2 separate regions of the Homo sapiens genome follow, and region 2 is linked to region 1. Evidence: fine-mapped expression QTL. A gene starts in region 1. The other region holds a variant in brackets. All regions are shown on one strand. Distances are from middle to middle.

Evidence for each region. PIP is the estimated chance that this variant, and not a neighbour inherited with it, causes the effect.
Region 2: its variant is the best candidate, but not a certain one, in a credible set for the expression of VASP in whole blood (TOPMed, PIP 0.88).

The regions. Positions count from the first base shown.
Region 1 is chr19:45,506,029-45,508,932 of GRCh38, forward strand. It overlaps VASP (vasodilator stimulated phosphoprotein), which reads left to right and starts at 1,451. Exons shown (of 13, transcript NM_003370.4): 1 at 1,451-1,748. The coding sequence starts at 1,744. It overlaps LOC107985314 (a long non-coding RNA gene), which reads right to left and starts at 1,346. Exons shown (of 2, transcript XR_007067269.1): 1 at 657-1,346. RefSeq lists silencers at 512-761, 792-921, 1,602-1,781, 2,376-2,575 and enhancers at 1,116-1,900, 1,182-1,451.
Region 2 is chr19:45,537,411-45,540,314 of GRCh38, forward strand. It overlaps a transcript of OPA3 not described here. Among named protein-coding and RNA genes, the nearest start is that of VASP, 31 kb to the left of the region's middle. The variant G/A (reference allele first, on the strand shown) is at 1,577.

The DNA of each region.
Region 1 (2,904 bases):
TGCAGTAAGCGGGGATCGAGCCAGCGCCCTCCAGCCTGGGTGACAGCGAGAGACTACATCTCAAAAAAAAAAAAAGAAAAAAAGAAATTTAGTCTACCCATTCTCCCAGACAACTCAGCCTGAGGAAACACACTGAGAAACAATGATAACCTCCGAGGAACAGGGTTCAAGGTCTCCCAGAGTGGGGTGGAGAAGGGGAGGGGAATTAATGTCAAAGCTTGGCCTGGAAGGATGACGTGCTCCCCAGGTAAAGGAGGTCAGGACAACATCAACATCCGGACATGGGACTCGGCTTGGACATACGCTGGAAAAGTGGATTCTCTCACATAGTCAGCTGGCCCTGAGAATTGTTGGTTTTACACTCAGACCTTGGTGGCTTTCCGGGTTCTGGGGGCTCAGGCAAGAGGGCCATAGGCCAGATTCATTCCCTGTCTCCAGGCCTCAGTTTACCCGTGTGTAAATGTGGAACTAACTGATTTCCCAGGGCTCGGGCGCCTCACCCGGGCCAGGTGGCGCTCTACCCAAGGGGCGCGACCAAATCAGTGACGTCACTCGGGGCGGGGCCGGCAAGACACGCTGCGGAAGCCTCAGAGGGTGTCTGGGCTCAGCCCGGAGCCGGCGTGTGGGGGCGGGGGCTCCCGGGAGGGTCTCCTCACCTCCGGGCCCTCCTGAGGGCTGGGATGATCCTGCTGTCCTCCGCAGGCGAAACTGAGTCAGAGCGGGGCGTGCGTGGGCCGGAGGCTTTACACACCAAAGAAGCCGGCGCCTCCTGCCCACCCCGGGCGAATGCCGGGCCCCCCACTCCCGCACTCCTCGCCAGTCCCCACCTCCACCCCACCCCACCCCCGACCCTGCGGCTGTGAGTCAGCGACCGACCGCGCCCCCTTGGCCCACTTCCTCCTCACCTTCCCGGGGCGGGCGGGGTGGGGTGAGAGGGGTTGGGCCCTACTCCCCCGACTTCCACTCCCGTGCGGGTGGGGGTCTCGCCCCCTTAGTAACCTCTCCGAAATTGACAGAAGAGAAACGCTGGGGAGGGGCGGTGTTCCGAAGATGGGATTTCAGGGAGAAAATCTGAGACCACTTGCTTAACTTGAGGGTCCTCCTCGACCCCCAAAATTGAGCGGAGTACGAGATGGAGAAGTCGATGGGGAAAGAAATCGCGCCCCTTCCGAGACCCTCCTCAGAATTCCCACAGTGGGAGCGAACTAGGAAGCAAGGGAGGTCCCCTTCCCCTTCACCAACTTGCCCCTCAGGTGGGGGTGATTCCCAGGGTGCACCCCTGGGCTACAACATTGGGGAGAGGAGCGAGATCGCGGAAGCCGAGGGTGCAGAGTTGCCCTTTTAAGCGCCCTCCACCCCCTCGCCTGGAGGCGCACGCGGCCCCTTTAAGGCGCGGGGCATTGTGGGTGCGGGGAGTGGAATTTTGGAACGAAATGTAACGAAGAGAAGTACAGTAGTAAGAGTAACACTGTAGCCGCCACCGGCAAGGGGTGCGCGCTGGGGAGCGGACGCTGCATCCCCTTTCTGCTGCAGGAACCTCTCATCAGACCGCCTGAGGGAAGCGGCGCCCGGAGACCCGCCCCGGCCCGGTCCACATTCTCCCCAGGAAGCCGGACTCTATGGGGCGGGACCCTGGGGGAGCCTGAGCCGAGCCCGGAGCCAGCCCCGAACCCCTGAACCTCCAGCCAGGGGCGCCCCGGGAGCAGCCAGCCCGTGGGCGAGCCGCCCGCCCGCCGAGCAGCCATGAGGTGAGCCGGACCTGCCCCCCGACCCGTCCCCGCCCGGGCGGGCTCCGCGCCCCGCCTTTGTCCCCCTCCCCCCCAGCTAGCTCCGGGCTGGAATTTGGGGACAGATCCTTGGGAGCCTCGGATTTGAGCTGAATCCCCTTGGACGCGCCCCAGAACCGTCGATCACTTCTCCACGACTGACTCCCCAAGCTCGGGGGGTGGTGGCGGTGAGGTTCTCCTGGGAGCCCTCAAGATTTGGGGGCGCTCGGAGGACTCCCGAATTGTTAAGACTTTTTTTAGAGGACCTCAAAGTTGGCAGCGACTCCCCGCAGGGATGCCAGGATTGAGGCAGGGCTCAGACTCTCCTCCCCCTCCCCCCAGACTTCAGCTCGAGGTCCGGGAAGGATTGTGGGGGACCGATTTGGGATACCCTGGGACTTGGAAGAGAGACTGAGACTCAGACCCTGGGTGTGCAGGTCCCCCGTTTACTTGGTGCTGGAAAAAGTCTCCCCAAGTGGGACCGCGCTCCATAACTTCGGGGGTACTTCTTAATCCCCTGGATTTTGGGGGTCACTTAGGTCTTCCTGTGGAGGAGGCTGGTGTGAACCGATCCAGGGACCTGGACGCAGCCTCCAGAGTCTGGTGGGACCCCCCCCTTCCCCGTCGCTCCGCACACAATCTGCTTAACTGGCCGTGCCTAGGACCGAGCGGGCGCTCGGAGCAGAGGGCGGCTCCCCGCCTCCGGCCATAAGGGCGGCCCGGCTCCCCCACCTGCGCGGCCCTGGAGAGGGAGGGGGCGCGGCAGCTGGGGGAAGGGGGCCTTTGTCTTCCTGACTCACCTGTCGAGACAGCTGGTGTGGGGGGCGGGCACCAAGCGCTGTAGGCCGGCTGCCTTCCCCACCACGGCCCCTCCCCCTTTGCTCACCGTCCCCCTATCCACCCGGAGCCTTGGGGTTGGAGGAGGGGGAGCTGGAAAGCTTCAAGGTCATAGCCCTCTTCCCTAGGGACCCAGGCTTCCCAGATAATTCCAGCTATCTTCCCAGGAATTTAATCCTGGGGGTGGCGGCCCAAGGGACCCAGGGATTTGGTCTGGCCGGGGCCTCCCCCGAACTCCTGGGCTCACCTGAGGGCGGGGCCAGTGTGGGCAGGGGGGCCCAACCATCCCCCCTATTCTTCC
Region 2 (2,904 bases), 31 kb after region 1:
AAAAAAAAAAAACAAGAAAAGAACTTTCATTCTTCAAAAGACACCAGCAAGAGAGGGAAAAGGCAAATCATAGACTGGAAGAAGCCATTTGCAATACATCAATCTGACAAATAACTCAAATTTAGGACATACAGATACCTCCTGCCAATCAAAAGGGGAAGGGTAGAGAACCTAGTGGAGAAGGACTTGACTCACAAAAGAGGATGGTATCTTTTTCTTTTCTTTTATTTTCTTTTTTTGAGATGGAGTTTCGCTCTTGTTGCCCAGGCTGGAGTGCAGTGGTGCGATCTCGGCTCACTGCAACCTCTGCCCTCCGGTTTCAAGCGATTCTCCTGCCTCAGCCTCCCGAGTGCCAGAGCAGGGAGGGAGAATGACGAGACTAAACTGTAGCTTCAGCTTTCTCTCTTTAAAAACCAAAGCAAAGAGGACAAAATGTTCATTTCTATTAATTCTAAGTGGTGGGTACAAGGTTATTCATTATATTGTTTTCTGTATGTCTGCAATATTTCATAATATATATGTTTTCAATAAAAATTAGCTGGGTGTGGTGGTGTGTGCCTGTAGTCCCAGCTACTCAGGAGGCTGAGGCGGGAGGACTGCCTGAATTCAGGAGGTGCAGGTTGCAGGTTGCAGTGAGCTGAGATGGTACCACTGCACTCCAGCCTGGAGGACAGAGCTAGGCTCCATATCAAAAAAAAAAAAAAAAATGCCACCTGAAAAAAAAAAAAAAAAGATTCTAGCTAGCTATGGAGTCTCACACCTGTAATCCCAGCACTTTGGGAGATCAAGGTAGGAGGATTGCTTGAGACCAGGAATTTGAGGGCAACATAGTGAAACCCCATCTTCACACACGCACACAAAATAGCTGGGTGTGGTGGTGTATGCCTGTGGTCCCAGCTCATCAGGAGGCTGAGGGGGGAGGATTGCTTGAGCCTGGAAGATCAAAACTGCAGTGAGCTGTGATTGCACTACTGCACTACATCCTGGGCAAAAGAGTGAGTCCCTATCTCAAGAAAAAAGCAAGTGAGGCCAGGCACGGTGTCTTACACTTGTAATCCCAGCATTTGTGGGAGGCCGAGGTGGGCAGATCACTTGAGGTCAGAAGTTCGAGACCAGGCTGGCCAACATGGTGAAACTACCTGTCTCTACTGAAAATACAAAAATTAGCCAGGTGTGGTGGCGTGTGCCTGTAATTCCAGTTACTTGGGAGGCTGAGGCAAGAGAATTCCTTGAACCTGGGAGGCGGAGGTTGCAGTGAGCCAAAATTGTGCCATTGCACTCCAGCCTGGGCAAAAAAGTGAGACTCCGTCTCAAAAAAAAAAAAAAGAAAAGATGCTCAACACATTAGTTAGTAGAGCAATACAAGTCAAATTCACAATGAGATGCCATTTCCCAGCCACTGGAATGGCTATAGTCAAAACAGTGAACAACCACTAATGCTTCCAAAGTTTCTGTATTAGTCAGTTTTCACACAGCTATAAAGAAATTCCTGAGAATGGGTAATTATAAAGGAAAGAGGTTTAGTTGACTTACAGTTCTGAATGGCTGGGGAGGCCTCAGGAAACTTACAATCATG[G/A]CAGAAGGCAAAGGGGAAGCAGGCACCTCCTCACAAGGCAGCAGGAGGGAGAAGTGAAAGGGCAGGAAAAACTGCCATTTTAAAATTCATTAGATCTCATGAGAATTCACTCATTATCAGGAGAACAGCATAAGGGAAACCACCCCCATGATCACTTCCCTCCCTCAACACATGAGGATGACAACTCGAGATGAGATTTGGGTTGGGACACAGAGCCAAACTATATCAGTTGTAGGGTAACAAAACTCTCGCATGTCACTGGCGGAAATGTAAAATGGTGCAGCCACTTTGGAAAGTAGTTTGGCAGTTTCTTAAAAAGTTAAACATAGGCCAGGTGCAGTGGCTTACACACCTGTATTCCCAGCACTCTGGGAGGCTACTCATCGCTTGAACCCAGGAGTTCAAGACCAACCTGGGCAACATGGCGAAACCCCTTCTCTACAAAAACATCACAAAAAAGTTTTAATATTTTTATTTTTTCTGCCACGCTCGGCTAATTTCTGTATGTTTTGTAGAGATGAGGTCTCACTATATTGCCCAGGCTGGTCTCAAACTCCTGACCTCAAGCTATCCACCCACTTCTGTCTCCCAAAGTGCTGGGATTACAGGCATGAACACTACACCCAGCCAAAAAACACAAAAATTAGCCGGGCGTGGCGGTGCATGTCTGTAATCCCAGCTACTGGGCGGGGGTGGGGCTGAGGTTGCAGTGAGCAGACAGCGCGTCACTGCACTCCAGCCTGGGCGACAGAGCCAGACCTTGTCTCAAAAAAAAAAAAAAGGAATGAGATATTCATGCAATAAAATGGACCATGCATTGTATGACTCCATTTACATTAAATGTCCCAAATAATGCAATCTATTAAGGCAGAAAGTAGATCAGTGATTTTTAGGGGCTGAAGGAAGGAGAATGGAGAGTCACTGCAAATGAATGTGAGGGATCTTTTGGAGATGATGGAAATGTTCTGAAATTGGAATGTGGAGATGGTTGCATAACCATGTCAGTTTACTGAAAATCATCAAATCGTACTCTTAAAATGGGTGAGTTTCGGCCAGGCGCAGTGGCTCATGCCTGTAATCCCAGCACTTTGGGAGGCCGAGGCAGGTGGATCACGAGCTCAGGAGATTGAGAGCATCGTGGCCAACATGGTGAAACCCCGTCTCTACTAAAAATACAAAAATTAGCCGGGTGTGGTGGCGTGCACCTGTAGTCCCAGCTACTCGGGAGGCTGAGGCAGGAGAATCGCTTGAACCCAGGAGGCAGAAATTGCAGTGAGTCAAGATCGCACCACTGTGCTCCAGCCTGGGTGCCAGAGCGAGACTCTGTC